Linked DNA regions of Homo sapiens. The protein of the gene in region 2 binds, or shares a complex with, the protein of the main gene of each other region. Each region holds a gene or a part of one and is shown on either strand. Other genes may lie near its edges. The genes, in order: RNASEH2C and RNASEH2A. A codon is read from its position in the direction of its gene.

Region 1 (11,407 bases), on a different chromosome or scaffold from region 2:
CCCCATCACCCCCCATTCTGTCTGTCTCACCACTCACTTGGAATAACCAAGCTCTGACCTGAGAAACAAGGAGGAAGTTCTAGCTGTTGACCTGGTGAAGACACAGAGGCTTTACCTGATCAAGGTTATGGTCCATTCGAGAAATTTTATTGGTTAAATGATGCCCAGATGGGGTCACATCCTCAGAACTTCTCAGCCTGGTAGCACAAGTGGATGCTTGAAGAAACTCAGTCTTGGAACTCAGACAGCAATGGAGACGGGATGTGAGTGGGACCAGCAAGGGGCTAAGGTCCATTATGAGGGTGAGGAAGGGCTTCTAGAAGTAACAAACATCCCAGGTCCCTGACTGGGGAGAATGAAGACACTGACCAAGAGATGTGAAGCCACTCAGGGCTGTGCAGGGTCTGAGGATCTCACTGGGGACGGCCTCCCAGCGGCCAGCTATCAGCACGAGTTGGAGGGAAAGAGCCATGGTGGGGGTCAGTCACGTGGCTCCCAGGAATGGTCTCCCCGACTTAGGAAGCACCTTGGTGCACCTTTTCTCCTTGCATCCTCACAACCACCCAGTCAGGCCACTCAAGTCTTACAGCAGGTGACACTCCCAAGGTCCCAGCTAGGAGGACTTTGAGAATTCAAGCATTCTCAGGTCTGGATTAGAGACAGGAATCTGTCTCCACTTCCTTACATGGCTAGACACAGAGCCCGGGATGGCAAAGGAAAATTGGAGGCCCCTTCTTCCCATGAGCCATTTTCTCTGCATCCCCTGCCCATAAGCCTTCACTGGCCTCTGATCACCCTCATGGTTGACTGCAGCTGCTCCTCTCAGTGCCCTCATGCCCTCCACTGTGCTCAGCGCACGGAAAGAGTGAATACTCAGTTCTTCCTGAGGGAACTGAGGCACAGAGAAGTGGAGGGCATAGAACTGCCAAGTGGCAGGGCCATGATAGGAACTAGGCAGCCTGCCTTGGCAACCTGTGTTTTTAAATGTTGCTTATGTTCATCTGTGACCTCTTACTCACCCTCTCCTGCTCCATTGCTTTAGGCTATGAACTCTCCAAAGTGGAAGGGAAAACAGGGACCCCTGAGAAGCCCCTCTCAGACCTTGGCCTCCTATCCTATCGAAGCTACTGGTCCCAGACCATCCTGGAGATCCTGATGGGGCTGAAGTCGGAGAGCGGGGAGAGGCCACAGATCACCATCAAGTGAGCCTGGCGCTGTCTACCTGGGGGTACATGGCATGGCTTGTCTGTTCCTGGGCTTTCTCTCTCAGGGCTCCTGGGGACAGATAAAGGTCCTCAGGGAACCTGACCTGTGCTCTCCCACAGTGAGATTAGTGAAATCACCAGCATCAAGAAGGAGGATGTCATCTCCACTCTGCAGTACCTCAATCTCATCAACTACTACAAGGTAGGGAGGCAGGCAGGGGAGACAGGTGTGTGGGATGCAGAGTGCAGTCCTCTGTGGGCTGACCACCTGCTGAACCCATCTCCTCTGCCCAGGGCCAGTACATCCTCACACTGTCAGAGGACATCGTGGATGGCCATGAGCGGGCCATGCTCAAGCGGCTCCTGCGGATCGACTCCAAGTGTCTGCACTTCACTCCCAAGGACTGGAGCAAGAGGGGGAAGTGGTGACCAGACACTGCCCACTGCAGTGCCAAGACGGCAGCAGGACTGGGGCTGATAGCCCACCCCGCCCCCACTGCAGCTCCCACAAAGCACTCTAAGGGAGATGGGGCTGAGGACAGCTCAAAAAGGAGAGGACAGGCCTGGCAGGGGCCCACTGGTGCCCAGCACCAAGGCGAGCTCCGGGCTCAGACCAACTCCAAGGTCAGCTGGCCACAGGCCCAGGCCTCCTCTGAAGCAGGGACCAGAGGGAGCCAGGCAGCTGTGTACAGTGAGAAGGGATCCGGATGGGGGAGCTCTGTACAGAGGGCTGGTGATTGTAAAAATTTCTTTTGTAAAGTAGAAGTTGGGGGTGGGGTGGGTGCTGGCTGCAAAAATTTCTGGCTTCTCTTACCCCTATTGCCCCCGGCAATAAATTGTTTCTATATGCCAGAGCCATGCAAAGTTCTTGGTGGGGAGGGGGAAAGGGCCCATGCTGGCTTAGGGGCTCTAAGGCGCCCAGACTCACAGGTGCTGTGAAGAGCTCCTTTATTGGGGTGATGGAATCGGTTCCAAAGAGCTGGTTTACTGCTGTGAAGGGATCGCAGCTTTGAATTTCAAGCTCTGGTTCTCAGTCCTCGGGCACCTGTGCGTGAATCTGCAACAGGAGTCGCCTCTACTGTTGGACTTGTAAGACAGGGCGGCAAGCTGGCCCCCATACCCGAGGAAGGACCCAGCTGTTCAGAATAACCGCTTCTAGACATGCTAGGAAGAGTGGTCAGGGAGCTACGCTTCCCACACACTACCCAGTAGAATCCTCCAGGCTCCGTCTGCGCAATTGTGCTCCCCAGCCCATCCACCCGGGGGCAAGACGGAACTCCTCGTCTACTCACCGCTGCCGCAAGGCTGGGCCAAGTTAAGGCCCCACGCACTTTGGCATCCGGGCCAGGGATGGTCTCCAGACCCCACAGGGTGAAGCGGCTGAAGTTGGCAGTGGCTCCAATGAAGCGGTCCTGGGGAAGGGGCCTGGCTCAGCATCGGGACTACAGCTCCCGCCCGCACCCCCTTTCAACCCTATCCCTTTGCTCACGAAGTCCCGCTCCAGCGGCTCCTCCTCTTGGTCGTCAGTCCCGGAATCCCGCAAGGGGTCTGGCTTCCCCATCGACACCTTCTTCTCTTCTGTCACCATCACGTATCCCACGAGGCCAGGCGGCACCGCCACCTCCTCTCCCCGTAGACAGCGGCCCCGAAACGACACTTCGAGTCCTGGAGCGGGAGGCGCAAAGGGCCTCAGGCAGGACCCACGCTGGGTCGAGCCCGGAGCTGCCCTCCCGCCACCTCCGGACGGACCACGATCCCCAGGAGCCCAGGCGATGAGAAGCGCGCAGGCCGGCGCGGGGGCTGCCGGGAGCCGTAGTCCGGCCGCAGGGCTCACCCTCGGGGCCCTGGCGGATGGCGGGCGTGAAGAAGCGCCCCACCGGGGCGGGCCCGTCCACCGCAACCTCGCAGGGCAGCAGATGCAGTGTGGCGGGTACGGCGTCGCGCAATGTGGCGGAGCGCAAGTGGACGCGGTGCCTCTCGATGGCCGCTTCGTCGCCGCTCTCCATCCTCCCTCCTACGCGACGCCAGGGCTCGCGAGCTGACACTGAAGCTGGCGCGGAAAGCGCGCAGGACCTCTCAGGAAGCCTCCGCGGGGCCTCACGGGAAGCCGCCGCGGAGCTTCACGGGAAGTGTAGTCCCCTTACCCCCTAACGCTTTCCCTGGGTTCAAGTCCTAGGGTTTTCCAGTTGTGTTTTGTTTTTTTCCTTCCTTCCTTCCCCCCTCCCCTCTTTCCTCCCTCCCCTCTCCCCCTCTCCTTCCCCCTCCCCCCTCCTTCCCCCTCCCCCCTCCCCCTCCTCCCTGCCTCCCTTCCTTCCCCCCTTCCCTTCCCTTCCTTCCCGTCCTTCCCTCTTTCTTTCTTTTTCTTATTTATTATTATTTTTTTTTGACAGAGTCTCGTTTTGTCGCCCAGGCTGGAGTGCCAGGCACGGTCTCAGCTCACTGCAACCTCCGCCTCCCGGGTTCAAGCGATTCTCCTGCCTCAGCCTCCGGAGTAGCTGGGATTACAGGCGCACACCACCATGCCCACCTAATTTTTGTATTTTTAGTAGAGACTGGGTTTCGCCATGTTGGCCAGGCTGGTCTCGAACTCCTGACCTCAGGCGATCCTCCAGCCTCGGCCTTCTGAAGTACTTGGATTACAGGCGTGAGACACCGCCCCCAGCCGGGTTTTTTTCTTTTATTGTTTTTAATGGCACATGTCGTTGTAAAAATCTAAAACGATTCTGAAAAGTACTCTTTTTATATTGATTAGTAGGTAGGTTATTCATTTTTAGTTTATTAGGGACATCAACCCTTTTCTTAAATGCATTGAAAATGTTTTATCTGTGGTCTGTCTTGCAAACCTGTGTAAAGGTGATTTTTGCTGGACAAGGACTTATTTTTGTGGTTGTTTGGTCTTTTAGACAAGGTCTCACTCGCCTAGGCTGGAGTGCAGTGGTTTGATTGGCTCACTGCAGCCTCGACCTCCCAGGCTTAATCCATCCCCCATCCTCAGCTTCCTGTGTAGCTGGAACCACAGGCCTGCGCCACCACGCAGCTAATTTTTGTATTTTTGGTAGAGGTGGAGTTTTGCCATGTTGCCCAGGCTGGTCTTGAACTCCTGGACTCAAGTGATCTGCCCACCTTGGCCTCCCAAATCACGCTGGAATTACAGGCGTGAGCCACTGCACCCAGGACAAAGACTAATTTTTTGTAGTCAAATTTATCAACACTTTTCAGTCTTTTAGATTTCACAATTTTCTCTCTTTGGTTTCTCAGCTCTTCTCTAATGTTTATTTGTTCAGACACCCAACTTAGATATATTTTTTCAAGTTCTCACATAAAACAAACACAAAACTGGAAATTTAGATTTAAATTGCGTTTAATTTATACATCCCTGCACATCTGGGAGCTGGCCTTGGTATTCTGTTGAATATAAACAATTTCAGAGAACATCAGCATCGGACAAGGTCACTCTGTGACCGTGAGGGAGCAAGACAGAAACAGAACCACTCCATCGTCACATCTGAATGCTGGCAAAGGTGAACACTGTCCAAACCACAAAAGGCATGAAACATCCCTCTTTCTCCCATAAGAGAGTGACTGTTGTTTCCTTACCAATTACAGCATTAGCCTCCAACTAATCTTCTCTCCTTCTGGGCAAGACTCATTAAGATAGTCCGTCATAGACATACCCCCACCTCTGACAGCATCCAAGCCAGAGAGAAGCCTGGCTTCCCTAAACCCTGACTGAAATCACTGAACATGGGCACAAATCCTCCTATAAGTCCTTTCTAGCACCCTCTTATTGAAATTCCCCAGAGTGCAGGAGTAATATACCCAATTTGTTCAACTGCAGATGTATTCCTGGTGCTCTTTCACTAGAGTGGCAGATTAATTTAGAAAAAGGCTTGCTTTAGTTTTCTATCAGGAAAGACATAATTCAATTTATTCACATCTCCTTGGATATCTGTACAGTTGTGAGGTTTTGTTCATATATAATAGCTATTAATACATATTGTAAAGTTTATTTCTTCTTAGCTTATATTAATAATTGTTTCTATTAAGAACTGAGGGGCTGGGCATGATGATTCACACCTGTAATTCCAGTGCTTTAGGAGGCCAAGATGGGGGAGGATTGCTTGAAGCCAGGAGTTTGAGACCGGCCTGGGAAACATAGCAAGACTCCGTTCCTACAAAGAAAAAAATTTTTTTAAACATGAGTGGGGCACAGTGGCATGTGCCTGTAGTCCCAGCTACTCAAGAAGCTAAGGTGGGAAGATCACTTAAGCCAAGGAGTTTGAGGCTGCCGTTCGAGTCACGATTGCACCACTGCACACCAGCCTGGGTTACGGAGGGAGACCCTTTCTCTAAAAACCAAAATTGGGGCTTTTATTTTTTTCATTTTATTTTCTAACTGATTTTCTTTTTAATCTATAGCAGGGGTTGGCAAACTTTTTCTGTAAGGGGTCAAATAGTAAATATTTTAGGTTTTGTGGACTTTATGGCTTCTGTCGCAGCTACTCAACTTCACCGTTATAGCATGAAAGCAGTCATAGACAATACATAAATGAATGAGCGTTGTTGTGTTCCAGTAAATCTTTGCAGAAACAGACAAGGGGTTGGATTTGAACCACAGGCCATAGTTTTCAGACCCCTTGTCTATAGCAAACCTGTTGATTTTTATATGTCCATTTTTAAACTAGATATCGACTGAATTATTTTGTTCCTAATGATTTTTATTTTATTTTAAGATCCCCAGAATTAGTCACCTCTCTTTCAAATAATAATTTTTACCTCACCATTACATCTTCTTTTTGTTTTTTGTTTTTTGTTTTTTTTTTTTCATTACACCTTGTAATTTGTTTTCTTTTCTAATTGCCTTGGCCAGTACTTGCAGAACAGTCTCTCAAATGTTACTGGTATCAGAGGACAACATTGTCTTTTTCCTGAAACTTTCACGGGAGTGCTTCTGCTGTTTCACCAATAATCATGAAACTGCCTTTTGACTTGTTATATATGTCTCATTAAAGCTGTACTACTAAGAGCTTTTAAAAATTGGGAGTAGATGTTGGATCTTATTTTTTATTTTTATGTTTTTGGTTTTGCAAGTTTCCTGTAGTCTGGATATTAGTAATTGCATTCCTATAGTGTCAAGGTAATCTATACCTGTATTTTCTGTAATTACATCTAGAAGCTTAATTCGATTCTTTGGGGAGGGGAGAGGGCAAGACTACTTCATGGGTGGTTTTGTGTTTTTCCCTCTTTTTGTGAGGTTAGCAGCCATAGATGATCATTGCCTAGATCCTTTAATTCATTAGAGGTTAAAACGCGTGTGTACGCGCACACACACACACACACACACATATTTTTGGGACAGAGTCTCACCTGGTAGCCCAGGCTGGAGCGCGGTGGCGCGATCTTGGCTCACTCAGCTCAACCTCTGTCTCCCGGGTTCAAGCAATTCTCCTGCCTTGGCCTCCTGAGTAGCTGGGATTACAGGCGCATGCCACCATGCCAGGCTAATTTTTGTATTTTTAGTAGAGATGGGGTTTTACCATGTTGGCCAGGCTGGTCTCCAAATCCTTACCTCAAGTGATCTGCTCCCCTCCCTTGGGCTCCCAAAGTGCTGGGATCACAGGCGTGAGGCATGGTGCCCAGCCTAAAACTGATATTCTAAGTCCTCTCATTTCTTCTTCATTTACTAGCTGAAATAGGTCTATAAAGAAAAACTCTCCCCATCAGCCATTTGATTGCCTGTTGGTACAGTGAGGATAAGAAAGACAAAATAATTAGGCCGGGCACAGTGGCTCACACCTGTAATCCCAGCACTTTGGGAAGCTGAGGTGGGTGGATCACTTGAGGTCAGGAGTTCGGGACCAGCCTGGCCAACACGGTGAAACCTTATCTCTACTAAAAAATACAAAAATTAGCCGGGCGTGGTGGCGCATGCCTGTAATCCCAGCTACTCAGGAGGCTGAGGCAGGAGAACTGCTTGAACCCGGGAGGTGGAGGTTGCAGTGAACTGAGATCGAGCCACTGCACTCCAGCCTGGGTGACAGAGCGAGACTGCATCTCAAAAAAATCCTTTTATTTTCCAGTTCTTAAAATAATGATTTGTTGCCCTAGCATATTCCAATGGTGACCTTTTAAAAATGTTAAATAAATATTAAATAAATAAATATAAATAAAAATAATAAATAATGGATTAACACTTTTATGTTTCACATAATTGTGGTTATTATTCTTACTGAGGTGCAAATTTCCCCATCTTCTGCCAGTGGAAGCCTCTTCAAGTTATCTCCTGAATCTTTCGATATGACCCTAGTGATCTTTTATACATATCTTTGTTTTCCAGTACCACAAGATGTTCCTGGCTCATCTTGTACATTTCCTGCCCCAGACTTGGAATTATACATCTCTCCAAAGATCGCTGGTTCCCTTCAGTGGGAAATGATATTTAGTAATCCAATCTGATACTAGATGTATTCATTGCTACTGAGTTAGCCTTTGTTTCTAGATATTTCCAGTGGACAAAGCTAGGAAATACGCATTTTTTTCCTCTCCTTTTTTTTTTTTTTTTTTTTGAGACAGAGTCCGCTCTGTCAGCCAGGCTGGAGTGCAGTGGCACAATCTCGGCTCACTGCAACCTCCGTCTCCTGGGCTCAAGCAATTCTCCTGATTCTCCTGCCTCAGCCTCCCGAGTAGCTGGGATTACAGGCGCCCACCACCATGCCCGGCTGATTTTTTTATATTTATTTATTTATTTTTGAGACGCAGTCTCACTCTGTCAGCCAGGTTGGAGTGCAATGGTGAGATCTCGGCTCACTGCAACCTCTGCCTCCCAGGTTCAAGCAATTCTCCTGCCTCAGCCTCCCGAGTAGCTGGGACTACAGGCGCCCGCCACCACGCCCGGCTAATTCTTTGTGTGTTTAGTAGAGACGGGGTTTCACCGTGTTCGCCAGGATGGTCTCGATCTCCTGACCTCGTGATCCGCCCGCCTTGGCCTCCCAAAGTGCTGGGATTACAGGCGTGAGCCACCGCGCCCGGCCAGGAGGCTTAGTCTTAATAAAAACTTGGAAAGAAAGATTCCCCTGAGGATCAATTACAACCGAAATGACAGAGCCCCTATCAGGTGTTGTTGAGTATCCCCTCTGCTGCTAAACTTCAGGGAATAACTTGTTGGGTACACCTGTCTAGGATTAAACCTGTTTCTTATGAGTCACAGGCACAAAAGCAGGATACCACGACCTACATCTGTGAACCTTTGGAGGACCTCTGCTACCTATTTAAAAGAATCAATATTCAGCCATAAGTGGTAACGTGACGCCGTGGGTGGGAACATTTTTCTCTTCTTCCTGATTGTAATACTTCTTTTCTGTCGCTTTGGGCAACTACCTCCTCCCAGGAAACATCTCTTGTCCTTGTTGGGTGTAGAGGCCACTCTAAGGCCCAGGTGGATACCATGTGCCACTGTTAATCCTGTTGCTCTCCCAATTAACCTAATCCTGTGTAAGTGGGAACAAAACTTTATAGTAAATATTTCAAAAATTATAGCTTTAGGAAATCATCTTCATGGTTGCTGGATTTGTCATCAACATCCCCAGGATAGAGAATTTCACCTTCTGGCCGATCCAAAAACTCTCTTGGCTAACTCCCTAGCCCTCTTCACCATCCATAGCAATCTCAAAGTACCCAGACCCCGACCATTAGGTGGAAATTTCTGTCGTGCACTTGATGGATTCTACCTGAAATCCCCCACCACTATTGCCTGGACCTGGGAAGGCGTATGTCTAGATCTCCAGGGCACTCATGATTCTATCAAGGCATGTATCTAGATCTCTAGGGCACTCATGATTCTGTCAAGGCGTGTATCTAGATCTCCAGGGCACTAATGATTCTATCTTTTGCAACCACTGTTGTGTTAATGACACAAAAGTGGAAGTTTCCCCACAATGCTGTGACCCAACTGTAGTTGCCAAGTTCCCAAGGCCACAGCAAGATAAATAAGATTCCACTTGTGAGCAAGGAGACCATATACAGTGCCTTCTCCCAGAGCAGAACATACAGAGAAAAAAACAACTGCCTAATCTGGGAAGGTGAGATTACCGCCCCCTTCTGGAAAACAAGGGCTGACCTAGAGGAAGCTTCTCCATCCTTGAATCTACATCTGGTTCGGCCTGCCTACCTCCACTCCTGCCTCCATCGTGTCCATCACGGTGACCCAGAAGCCCTACAAGGCATCCATCTCTGGCCCCTGGGCCTTCAGCAGCCGCTCCTACACCAGTGGTCCCGGTGCCCACATCAGCTCCTTGAGCTTCTCCCAAGTGGGCAGCAGCAGCAGCTTCTGGAGTGGCCTAGGCACCAGCATGAGTCTGGGTGGTGGCTATGGTGGGGCAGTGGTATGGGGTGGGGGTGGGCGACACAGCCATCATGGTGAACCAGAGTCTGCTGAGCCCCCTTAAGCTGGACCTGGACCCCAATATCCAGGCTGTGCATACCCAGGAGAAGGAGCAGATCAAGACCCTCAACAAGTTTGCCTCCTTCATCGACAAGGTGCAGTTCCTGGAGCAGCAGAACAAATGCTGGAGACTAAGTGGAGCATCCTGCAGCAGCAGAAGACAGCTGGGAGCAACATGGACAGCGTGTTTGAGAGCCACATCCACAGCCTTGGGCAGCAGCTGGACACTGGGCCAGGAGAAGCTGAAGGTGGAGGCAGATCTTGGCAACACGCAGGGGCTGCTGGAAGACTTCAACGATAAGTACCAGGATGAGATCAACGAGCGGACAGAGATGGGGAATGAATTTGCCTTCATCGAGAAGGATGTGGATGGAGCTTACATGAACAAGGCAGTGCTGGAGTCTCACCTGGAAGGGCTGACTGACAAGATCAACTTCCCCAGAGAGCTGTGTGAAGAGGAGATCTGGAAGCTGCAGTCCCAGATCTCGGACACGTCTGTGTGCTGTCCATGGACAACAGCCACTCCCTGGACGTGGATGGCATCATCGCGGAGGTCAACGCCCAGTACGAGGAGATCGCCCACTGCGGCCAGGCAAGGCTAAGAGTCTGCACCAGGTCAAGGATGAGGAGTTGCAGACACTGGCTGGGAAGCACGGGGATGACCTGCGTCGCGGGAAGATGGAGAACTCTGAGATGATCCGCAACATCAGCGGGGTCCATGCTGAGATTGAGGGCCTCAGAGGCCATCGCGGATGCTGAGCAGCGTGGGGAGCTGGTGGAGCTGGAGGCTGCCCTGTAGCAGGCCAAGCAGGACCTGGCGCCGGCCAAGCAGGACCTGGCGCCGCAGCTGCTTAAGTAGACAGCTGAGCTCGGCCTCCCGGGGCCTCACAAGCCCTGGCCTCAGCTACGGCCTGGGCCCCAGCCTTGACTCTGGCAGGGATTTCAGCTCCTTCAGCCGCACCAGCTCCTCCAGGACCATGGTTGGGAAGCTGGTGTCCGAGTCCTCTGATGTCCTGCCCAAGCGAACAACTATGGCAGTCCCTCCCAGCCTACCCCCTCTTGCAGCTGCCCCAGAGCTTGTGGGGGAGGCTGCTGTGCAGGAAAGCGCAGGGAACAGGAGACCCACTTGAGGCTCAGCCCTCCTCCACAGCCCACTTGTGTGGGGTAACTCCCTTGCCCATGCCTCCATCACAAAACAATTCCACTGTTTTGTTTTGTTTTGTTTTGTTTTTTCAAGATAAAGCCTCAGCTAGCTCTGTCAACTGTCAAAAAGCAAAAAACAAACAAAACCCAGAAAACCCTACCAGGGTTGTTTGGTCCTCCCCGTTGGAATGGGGGGAGATATCTTGTATCTCCACAGACCCAACTTAGTGGCTAAAGATAGGCATCACACCTCACAGGGCCTCTATTGCACCCCAAATGGGTTCGTTTTCATTTGTGGTCATAAGTGGGAAGAAGTCACATCCCATAACCACTCCTAACTCCCCAGAGGACCTCCTGTTCTTTTAGGAGTAGCTTTCCTTTGTATATCAAAAACTTGGAACAGGGGTGAGTGTATGTTGGCCACCCTTTGGCCTTCCGGGGGTCACCATATAAAACCCTGTAAGACCGAGGAATACCAGAAATGAATGATCAATAGGATTAATTCTGACATGAACTGGAGTGGCATTAGAACTAGTGGCCCCCTGGGGTGGCTTTGCCTACCATGAGTTGGCCCTAAAGAACTGACTCAAACCCTGGAATCATTAGCCACCAACACAGG
Region 2 (7,863 bases):
CTGTGCCACTGCACTCCAGCCTGGGTGACAGAACGAGACTCTGTCTCAAAACAAAACAAAATAAAACCAACAAAAACAGAACCAAAGAAAGAAGGGAGAACATTTGAGAAGCTTCCATCCCAACCTGCCCCAAATCACTGGTGGGCTTATCTGTGCCTTCTAGGTCCTTCTGGAGAGAATGCAGCTTGTTCCAAACATTAATGCGCAGATATGCTTTTTTTTTTGAGACATGGTCTTGCTCTGTCGCCCATGCTGGAGCCTACCTCAACCTCCAGAAAAGCTGGGACTGCAGCCACACGGCACCCTGCCCGCCAAGATTTTTGTTTGGTTCGTGACCTTTCTTTATTTTTTCTTATCTTCCCCCATGCAGCCCAGCATTTTTTTTTTTTTTTTTTTTTTTTTGAGACAGAGTTTCGCTCTTGTTACCCTATGTTGTCCAGACTGGTCAAGATCCTCCTGACTCAGCCTTCCAAAGCACTAGGATTACATGTATGAGCCCCTGCGCCCAGCCACATCATGTATTTTACATATTAGTCAGCCAGGTATGGTAGCTCACACATTGAGAGGTCACAGCGGGCAGATCACTTGAACCCAGGACTACAAGACCAGCCTGGGCGACATGATGAAACCTCATCTCTACAAAAAATACAAAAATTAGTTGGGCATCGTGGCGTGTGCCTGGAACCTCAGCTACTCAGGAGGTTAAGGTGGGAGAATCACTTAAACCCAGGAGGCGGAGGTTACACTGAGCTGAGATCGCACCACTGCACTCCAGCCTGGGTGACAGAGTGAGATTCTGTCTCAAAAAATTTTTTAAATAAAAATAGGCAATGCATGGCGGCTCACGCCTGTAATCCCAGCACTTTGGGAGGCTGAAGCAGACGGATCACAAGGTCAGAAGATTGAGACCATCATGGCTAACACGGTGAAACCGTGTTTCTACTAAAAATACAAAAAATTAGCCAGGCCTGGTGGCACGCACCTGTAGTCCCAGCTACTCGGGAGGCTGAGGCAGGAGAATCATTTGAACCTGGGAGGCAGAGGTTACAGTGAGCTAAGATTGAGCCAATGCACTCCAGCCTGGGTGACAGAGCGAGACTCCATCTCAAGAAAGAAAATTTAAAAATTTTTAAAAATTAAAAATATAACTAAAAAGGTCGGTGCAGTGGCTCATGCCTGTAATCCCAGCACTTTGAGAGGCTGAGGTGGGCAGATCACCTGAGGTCAGGAGGTAGAGAGCAGCCTGACTAACATATAGTGAAACCTTGTCTCTACTAAAAAATACAAAAATTAGGCCAGGCGCAGTGGCTCACACCTGTAATCCCAGCACTTTGAGAGGCCAAGGCGGGCAGATTGCCTGAGGTCAGCAGTTTAAGACCAGTCTGGCCAACGTGGTGAAACCCCGTCTCTACTAAAAATACAAAAATTAGCTGAGTGTGGTGGCGCATGCCTGTAGTCACAGCTACGTGGGAGGCTGAGGCAGGAGAATCGCTTGAACCCAGGAGGCAGAGGTTGCAGTGAGCCAAAATTGCATCACTGCACTCCAGCCTGGTGACAAAGTGAGACTCTGTCTCAAATTAAAAAAAAAAGAAAGAAAGAAAAGAAAAGAAAATTAGCCGGGTGTGGTGGTGTGCACCTGTAATCCCAGCTACTCAGGAGGCTGAGGCAGGGGAATTGCTTGAACCAGGGAGGTGGAGGTTGCAGTGAGCCAAGATTGTGCCATGGTACTCCAGCCTGGGCAACAGGAGACTGTGTCTCAAAAAAAAAAAAAAATTAGTTGGGCATGGCACACGCCTATAGTCCCAGCTGCTTGGGAAATTGAGGCAGGAGAATCGCTTGAACCTGGAAGGCAGAGGTTGCAGTGAGCTGAGATTGCCCCATTCTACTCCAGCCTGGGTGACAGAGTGAGACTTCGTCTCTCAAAAAAATAAAATAAAATAAAATAAAATAAATAAAATTTAAAAATGAAAAAAATCAAACCAAATAAAATTAATCAACCAACACCCATTCTATTTAAGGTTCCAAAAGGAAGTAGCTGGACCCGGCTGCAGAGCACACTCCCACCTTGCTTCTGTCCCAAAAGTACATCCCCTACGTGTGGTTCTCCTTAAACAATTTTAATGTCTGGGTTGGGGAAGCAGGTAGAGCGCGTAGAGGCAGCTGCTAGAGGCTGGTTGCTGACTCCAGGCCGCGTTCCAGGAAATATCGGTGGGAAGAACGGGGACGGGCTTGGGACCCTTCATTGAGGAAGTAGGATGTGATCTTCCTGAGTCCCTCCTGATTCTCGGATGCTGAGTCCTCCCTGTGGGAGAGAGGTGATGACAGTGACCACTTACACAGGGAGCAACCCTCTCAGGCAGGGCTGAACGCTGGCCTCCCTCCTTCCTTCCCTATAGCACCCCCAGGACATCCATGACACCCACCATATAACATCTTCCGCCTCTTTCTCCAGGATGGTCTGGGCCGTGCGCCAGCTGAACCGGACAAACTGGGGGAAGCCGAACACAGGCTCCACGTGCTCCTTCAACCACGCTTTTGTCTTGGGATCTGGGGTAGGGTGGGCAATGGTGACAGTCCAAGTTGCACCATAACATTCAAGCTCCCTGCCACTCTTTTTTTTTTCTTTGAGATGGAGTCCCACTCTGTAGCCAGGCTGGAGTGCAGTGGCGCGATCTCAGCTCACTGCAACCTCCACCTCCCGGATTCAAGCGATTCTCCTGCCTCAGCCTCCCAAGTAGCTGGGACTACAGGCGCATGCCACCATGCCCAGCTAAATTTTGTGTTTTTAGTAGTGACGAGGTTTCACCATGTTGGCCAGGATGGTCTCAATTGCTTGACCTCGTGATCTACCCCCCTCGGCCTCCCAAAGTGCTGGGATTACAGGCATGAGCCACCACGCCCGGCCTCCTTGCCGCTCTTCTAAGGCTTCCTCCTGAGTACCTGGGGCACCTCCTATGGTCTGAAGCACCTTCTTGCCACAGGACCTTTACCTGGCCAAGAGCTGCTAAAAGGGCAGTGCAGGGAGACTGCCTCTGAGACATCTCCTTGACCTCCAAGAACAAGTCATTAAACATTTTTATTTTATTTACTTATTTTTTGAAATGGAGTCTTGCTCTGTCACCCAGGCTGTAGTGCAATGGTGCGATCTCGGCTCACTGCAACCTCCGCCTCCCAGGTTCAAGCGATTCTCCTGCCTCAGCCTCCCAAGTAGCTGGGACTACAGCCACCCACCACCATACCTGGCTAATTTTTGTATTTTTAGTAGAGACGGGGTTTCACCATATTGGACAGGCAGGCTGGTCTCAAACTCCTGACCTCAGGTGATCCACCCACCTCAGCCTCCCAAAGTGCTGGGATTACAGGTGTAAACACCACACCCAGCCTTTTTATTTTTTTGAGATAGGGTCTCGCTCTATTACCCAGGCTGGAGTGCAGTGACATTATCACAGCTCAATGCAACCTCTGCCTCCCAGGCTCAAGCCATCCTCTCACCTCAGCCTCCCAAGTAGCTGGGACTACAGGTGCGCACCACCACACCTAATTTTTGTATTTTTTGTAGAGATGGGGTCTTGTCATATTGCCCAGGCTGGTTGTGAATTCCTGAGTTCACATGATCTACCTGCCTCTGTCTCTTAAAATGCTAGGATTACGGGCATGAGCCACCTGGCCCAGCCTGTCATTAAATATTATTATTATTATTATTATTATTATTTTGAGATGGAATTTTGCTCATTTCCCAGGCTGGAGTGCAATTATGCGATCTCGGCTCACTGCAACCTCCACCTCCCAGGTTTAAGTAATTCTCCTGCCTCAGCCTCCCGAGTTGCTGGGATTACGGGCGTGTGCCACCACGTCCAGCTAATTTTGTATTTTTAGTAGAGATGGGGTTTCACCACGTTGGTCAGGCTGGTCTAGAACTCCTGACCTCAAAGGATCCACCTGCCTCAGCCTCCCAAAGTCCTGGGATTACAGGTGTGAGCCACCACGCCTGGCTAACATTATTTTTTTTTTTGACACAAGATCTCATCTTGTCACCAAGGCTGGAGTGCAGTGGCATAATCATAGCTCACTGCAGCCTCCAACTCCTGGGCTCAAGCAACCCACCCACCTTAGCCTCCTCCTCCAGAGTAGCTGGGACTACAGGTGGGCACCACTATAACCGGCTAATTTTTTAAATTTTTTATAGAGATGGGGGTCTCGCTATGTTGCCCAGGCTGGTCTTGAACTCGAGGACTCAAGCGGTTCTCCTACCTCAGCTTCCCAAAGTGCTGGGATTACAGGCATGAGCCACCACGCCTGGTCCCCTTCCCCTTAACAAAGGGACAAATGCCCACCTTGGGTCTCAGTCCATCACTGGGGCTCCAGAAAGACAGCAAAGTGGGAAGCGGGGAAGACAGCAGCAATCCTATGGCCTGGAATTCAGCTCTATCACTCACTGGCTGTGTGGCCATAAACAAATGGCACCACTGTCTAACACTTGGCCTCTTTCACTGTGGAGTAGGGTGACCAGAGCAATTTAGAAAACCTCCAGCCAGGCACAGTAGTTCACACCTGTAATCCTAGCTATTTGGGAGTCCAAGGCAGGAGGATCACTTAAGCCCAGGAATTCAAGACCAGGCTGGGCAACATAGGGAGACCCCATCTCTTTAAAAAAAGAAGAAAAAAAGGGCCAGGGGTGGTGGCTCATGGCTGTAATCCCAGCACTTTGAAAGACCAAGGTGGGAGGACTGCTTGACTCCAGGAATTTGAGACCAGCCTGGGCAACATGACAAGACCCCATCTCTATAAAAACAAAAAATAGGCTGGGCACGGTGGCTCATGCCTGTAATCCCAGCACTTTGGGAGGCTGAGCCAGGCAGATCACCTGAGGTCAGGAGTTCAAGACCAGCCTGACCAACATGGAGAAAACTAGTCTCTACTAAAAACACAAAATTAGCTGGGTGTGGTGGCACATGCCTGTAATCCCAGCTACTCGCGAGGCTGAGGCAGGAGAATCGCTTGAAGCCAGGAGGTGGAGGTTGCGGTGAGCCGAGATCGCACCATTACACTCCAGCCTGGGCAAAAAGAGCGAAACTCCGTCTCAAAAAATAAACAAAAATAACAAATAAAAACAAAAAATAAGCAAAATAAAATGATAAATGACAGAAAGGAAAAAAAGAAAACCTCAGAAGTGTGCTCAGCCCTGGCCATTTCAACATTAGTACCATGGTCACGTGTCTGCTCACCATTGGGGTAGCCTGAGCCATAATCAGTATCCAAGTCCTGCAGTTTCTCCACGAACTGCCATTTCTTCACGGCCTGGTCCCGGGCCACCTGTGGGCAAAACAGGCACCTGGAATCTCCCTCCTTCCCTTTGGTGGCCATGCCTGGCCCCTATATAGTGGGATGGTGGAAGCCAGCCATGGCTAGTAGGGTACTGACCTTGGCACAGATGCTGGCAGCACTAACCACCGGGTAGAGGGCATCTGCTTTGGCCTTGACCGTCACCTCAATCCCGGGAAAACTTTGCTGCAGCCGCGCCTGGTATGTCTCTGGCATCCCTACGGTGTCCACGAATACCTGCCACAGCAACAGACACATATTAATTGAACAAACAACTGTACCAATGCTCTAGCCTCACAGCCCTGGCACGTTCTTCCTGCTACCCAGAATCCTCTTCTCCAGCACGTCCCCAGGATGGATCAATCAGGGATTTCAACTCGAACATCTCCTCCTAGACCAGGCAAAGTTGTTCAGGCCTGTGATCCCAGCACTTTGGGAGGCTGAGGCGGGAGGATCGCTTGATCCTGGGAGTTTGAGGCCAGGCTTGGCAACACAGTGAGACCCCATCTTTATAAAAACATAAAATAAATACAATAAAATAAAGAAAAAACTCACCTCCTGAAGAGGCTTTCTCTATCACGCTGCTTTTACTCTAACTTATTTAGCACCTACTGCATGCCACATACTGTTCTAGGAACTGAGGTGGCAGAAAACACTAGAAAAAAATTGGTAGAGTGCGTTAGCACAAGCCTGTAATCCCAACACTTTAGGAAGCCGAAGTGGGAGGATCGCTTGAGGGCAGGTGGTTGAGACCAACCTGGGCAACATATGGAGACCCTGTTTCTACAAAAAATAAAAAGTTAGCTAGGTGTAGTGGTGAATAAAGGCTTGAAGGAGGTGAGGAAGTGAACTGTGCAGAGATCTGGGGAAGAGGGCTCTAGGTGTGAGAACAGCCAGTACAAAGGCCCTGAGCTGGGACCAGGTTCATGATGCTGGGCCCATGCATGGGGGCCTTTGGCTGCAGCACCGAAGAGAGGGTCCAAGAGCTGCTGGGGGAAAGTGGTATCTCCACAGCACTACTGTTTTCAGAAACAACCTTTATTTTTTGTTTACCAGCTGACCATCTTTCATGTTTTATTTTTTTATTTTTTATTTTTAGTAGAGATGGGGTTTCACCATGTTGGTCAGGCTGGTCTCGAACTCCTGACCTGATGATCCGCCCGCCTCGGCCTCCCAAAGTGCTGGGATTACAGGCGTGAGCTACTGCGCCCAACCTCCAGCTGACCATCTTTCTGCCCAGGCTAGGCCCTGAACGCCTACGGGTAGGGCCCTTGTCTGTCTACACCAGTTACTGTATCGCCAGCTCTGCATTTGGGCCTGGTCCTCAGGTCCCTCCTCAGCAGGGTCTACCTTGCTATAATTCCTTTCTTTCTTCTTCTTTTTGTGGAGATGGAGTCTCGCTATGTTGCCCAGGCTGGTCTGGAACTCCTAGCCTCAACCAATTTGCTCACCTCAGCTTCCCAAAGTGCTGGGATTACAGGCGTGAGCCACCATACCCAGCATACAATTCCTACGTCAAGGTTATTTTGCCTTGTTATTCTCTCAGAACGGTCCATTCTTTCATTGAGAGCATTCGAGGCAATGCTGATTTATGTTTTTCTCTGGTAATTTAATGTAATTCTGCCCCACTCGACTGTGAATTTTCCTGATTTAATTTCCACTGTGATCGGAAAACTAAATGTCGAGATGTGCATTTCAAAAAGACTACCTTCTGTTGCTGCTTGGGGAACAGATTGGAGGGGATAGGAGGGTGAGGGACGAGAGACGACACTCAGCAGGTGTCCAGGGAGTGGGGGGTGTCCTGGGCTAGGACAGAGGTGACAGGTAGACAATGTAGGATTTGTTCTGGAGACTGAGCCTTTAGGATGAGGGAGAGATTAGATGGAGACGGGACTAGGGGCTACACTGTGGTCGTCAGTGTGGCACACATTTAGGGCAGAAACAGGAGCACGAAATCAACAGTAGCAATGAATATGCCCGAGGCACTCCAGACGTATCTGATGCTGAATCTGCACACTGCACATTTTTGCCCACATTTATTTTTTATTTTATTTTTATTTTTATTTTTCGCTCTGTCCCCCAGGCTGGAGTGCAATGGCGCGATCTCACCTCACTGCAACCTCCGCCTCCCGGGTTCGAGCAATTCTTCTGCCTCGGCCTCACCAATAGGTGGGATTACAGGCACCCGCCACCATGCTGGGCTAATTTTTTGTATTTTCAGTAGAGATGAGGTTTCACCATGTTGGCCAGGATGGTCTTCAACTCCTGACCTCAGGTGATCTGCCTGCCTCAGCCTCCTGAAACGCTGGGATTACAGCCGTGAGCCACTGCGCCTGGTCTCCCATTTTTAGTTTATTTTTTATTTTTTATTTTTTTGAGACAGGGTCTTGCTCTGTTGCCCGGGTTGGAGTGCAATGGCACAATCTTGGCTCACTGCAACTTCTGCCTCCTGGGTTCAAGCGATTCTCCTGTCTCAGCCTCCTGAGTAGCTAGGATTACAGGCGCCTGCCACCACGTCCAGCTAATTTTTGTATTTTTAGT

Evidence for each region.
Region 1: the proteins of RNASEH2A (region 2) and RNASEH2C are in contact, whole or in part, in a crystal structure (PDB 3PUF), measured with the Homo sapiens proteins. Residues at the interface, in NP_006388.2 of Homo sapiens: Thr11, Asn99, Ser102, Thr103, Leu106, Gly107, Arg108, Val109, Val196 (codon at 5,277), Glu197 (codon at 5,274), Lys198 (codon at 5,271), Leu199 (codon at 5,268), Glu225 (codon at 2,512), Pro226 (codon at 2,509), Val227 (codon at 2,506), Phe228 (codon at 2,503), Gly229 (codon at 2,500), Phe230 (codon at 2,497), Pro231 (codon at 2,494), Gln232 (codon at 2,491), Phe236 (codon at 2,479), Leu245 (codon at 2,452), Ala249 (codon at 2,440), Glu250 (codon at 2,437), Asp251 (codon at 2,434), Val252 (codon at 2,431), Ile253 (codon at 2,428), Trp254 (codon at 2,425), Glu255 (codon at 2,301), Asp256 (codon at 2,298); in NP_115569.2 of Homo sapiens: Pro33 (codon at 3,115), Cys34 (codon at 3,112), Glu35 (codon at 3,109), Val36 (codon at 3,106), Ala37 (codon at 3,103), Val38 (codon at 3,100), Ala42 (codon at 3,088), Pro43 (codon at 3,085), Val44 (codon at 3,082), Gly45 (codon at 3,079), Arg46 (codon at 3,076), Phe47 (codon at 3,073), Phe48 (codon at 3,070), Pro50 (codon at 3,064), Ala51 (codon at 3,061), Arg53 (codon at 3,055), Ser62 (codon at 2,859), Phe63 (codon at 2,856), Arg64 (codon at 2,853), Gly65 (codon at 2,850), Arg66 (codon at 2,847), Cys67 (codon at 2,844), Leu68 (codon at 2,841), Leu134 (codon at 2,566), Glu135 (codon at 2,563), Thr136 (codon at 2,560), Lys143 (codon at 2,539), Gly146 (codon at 2,530), Ala147 (codon at 2,527), Thr149 (codon at 2,521).

The regions. Positions count from the first base shown.
Region 1 is NC_000011.10:65,717,548-65,728,954, forward strand, and holds RNASEH2C (ribonuclease H2 subunit C), read right to left. Parts: upstream 3,252-11,407; 5' UTR 3,212-3,251; coding exon 3,040-3,211; intron 2,871-3,039; coding exon 2,695-2,870; intron 2,618-2,694; coding exon 2,498-2,617; intron 2,263-2,497; coding exon 2,236-2,262; 3' UTR 1,635-2,235; coding exon of another isoform or gene 1,500-1,634; 3' UTR 1,408-1,499; coding exon of another isoform or gene 1,326-1,407; 3' UTR 1,203-1,325; coding exon of another isoform or gene 1,043-1,202; 3' UTR 126-1,042; downstream 1-125. Other genes in the region: histone acetyltransferase KAT5, read left to right, coding at 1,043-1,202, 1,326-1,407, 1,500-1,634.
Region 2 is NC_000019.10:12,807,767-12,815,629, reverse strand, and holds the end of RNASEH2A (ribonuclease H2 subunit A), read right to left. Parts: intron 5,560-7,863; coding exon 5,422-5,559; intron 5,314-5,421; coding exon 5,226-5,313; intron 2,548-5,225; coding exon 2,424-2,547; intron 2,303-2,423; coding exon 2,164-2,302; 3' UTR 1,990-2,163; downstream 1-1,989. UniProt on the Homo sapiens protein: Catalytic subunit of RNase HII, an endonuclease that specifically degrades the RNA of RNA:DNA hybrids. Participates in DNA replication, possibly by mediating the removal of lagging-strand Okazaki fragment RNA primers during DNA replication.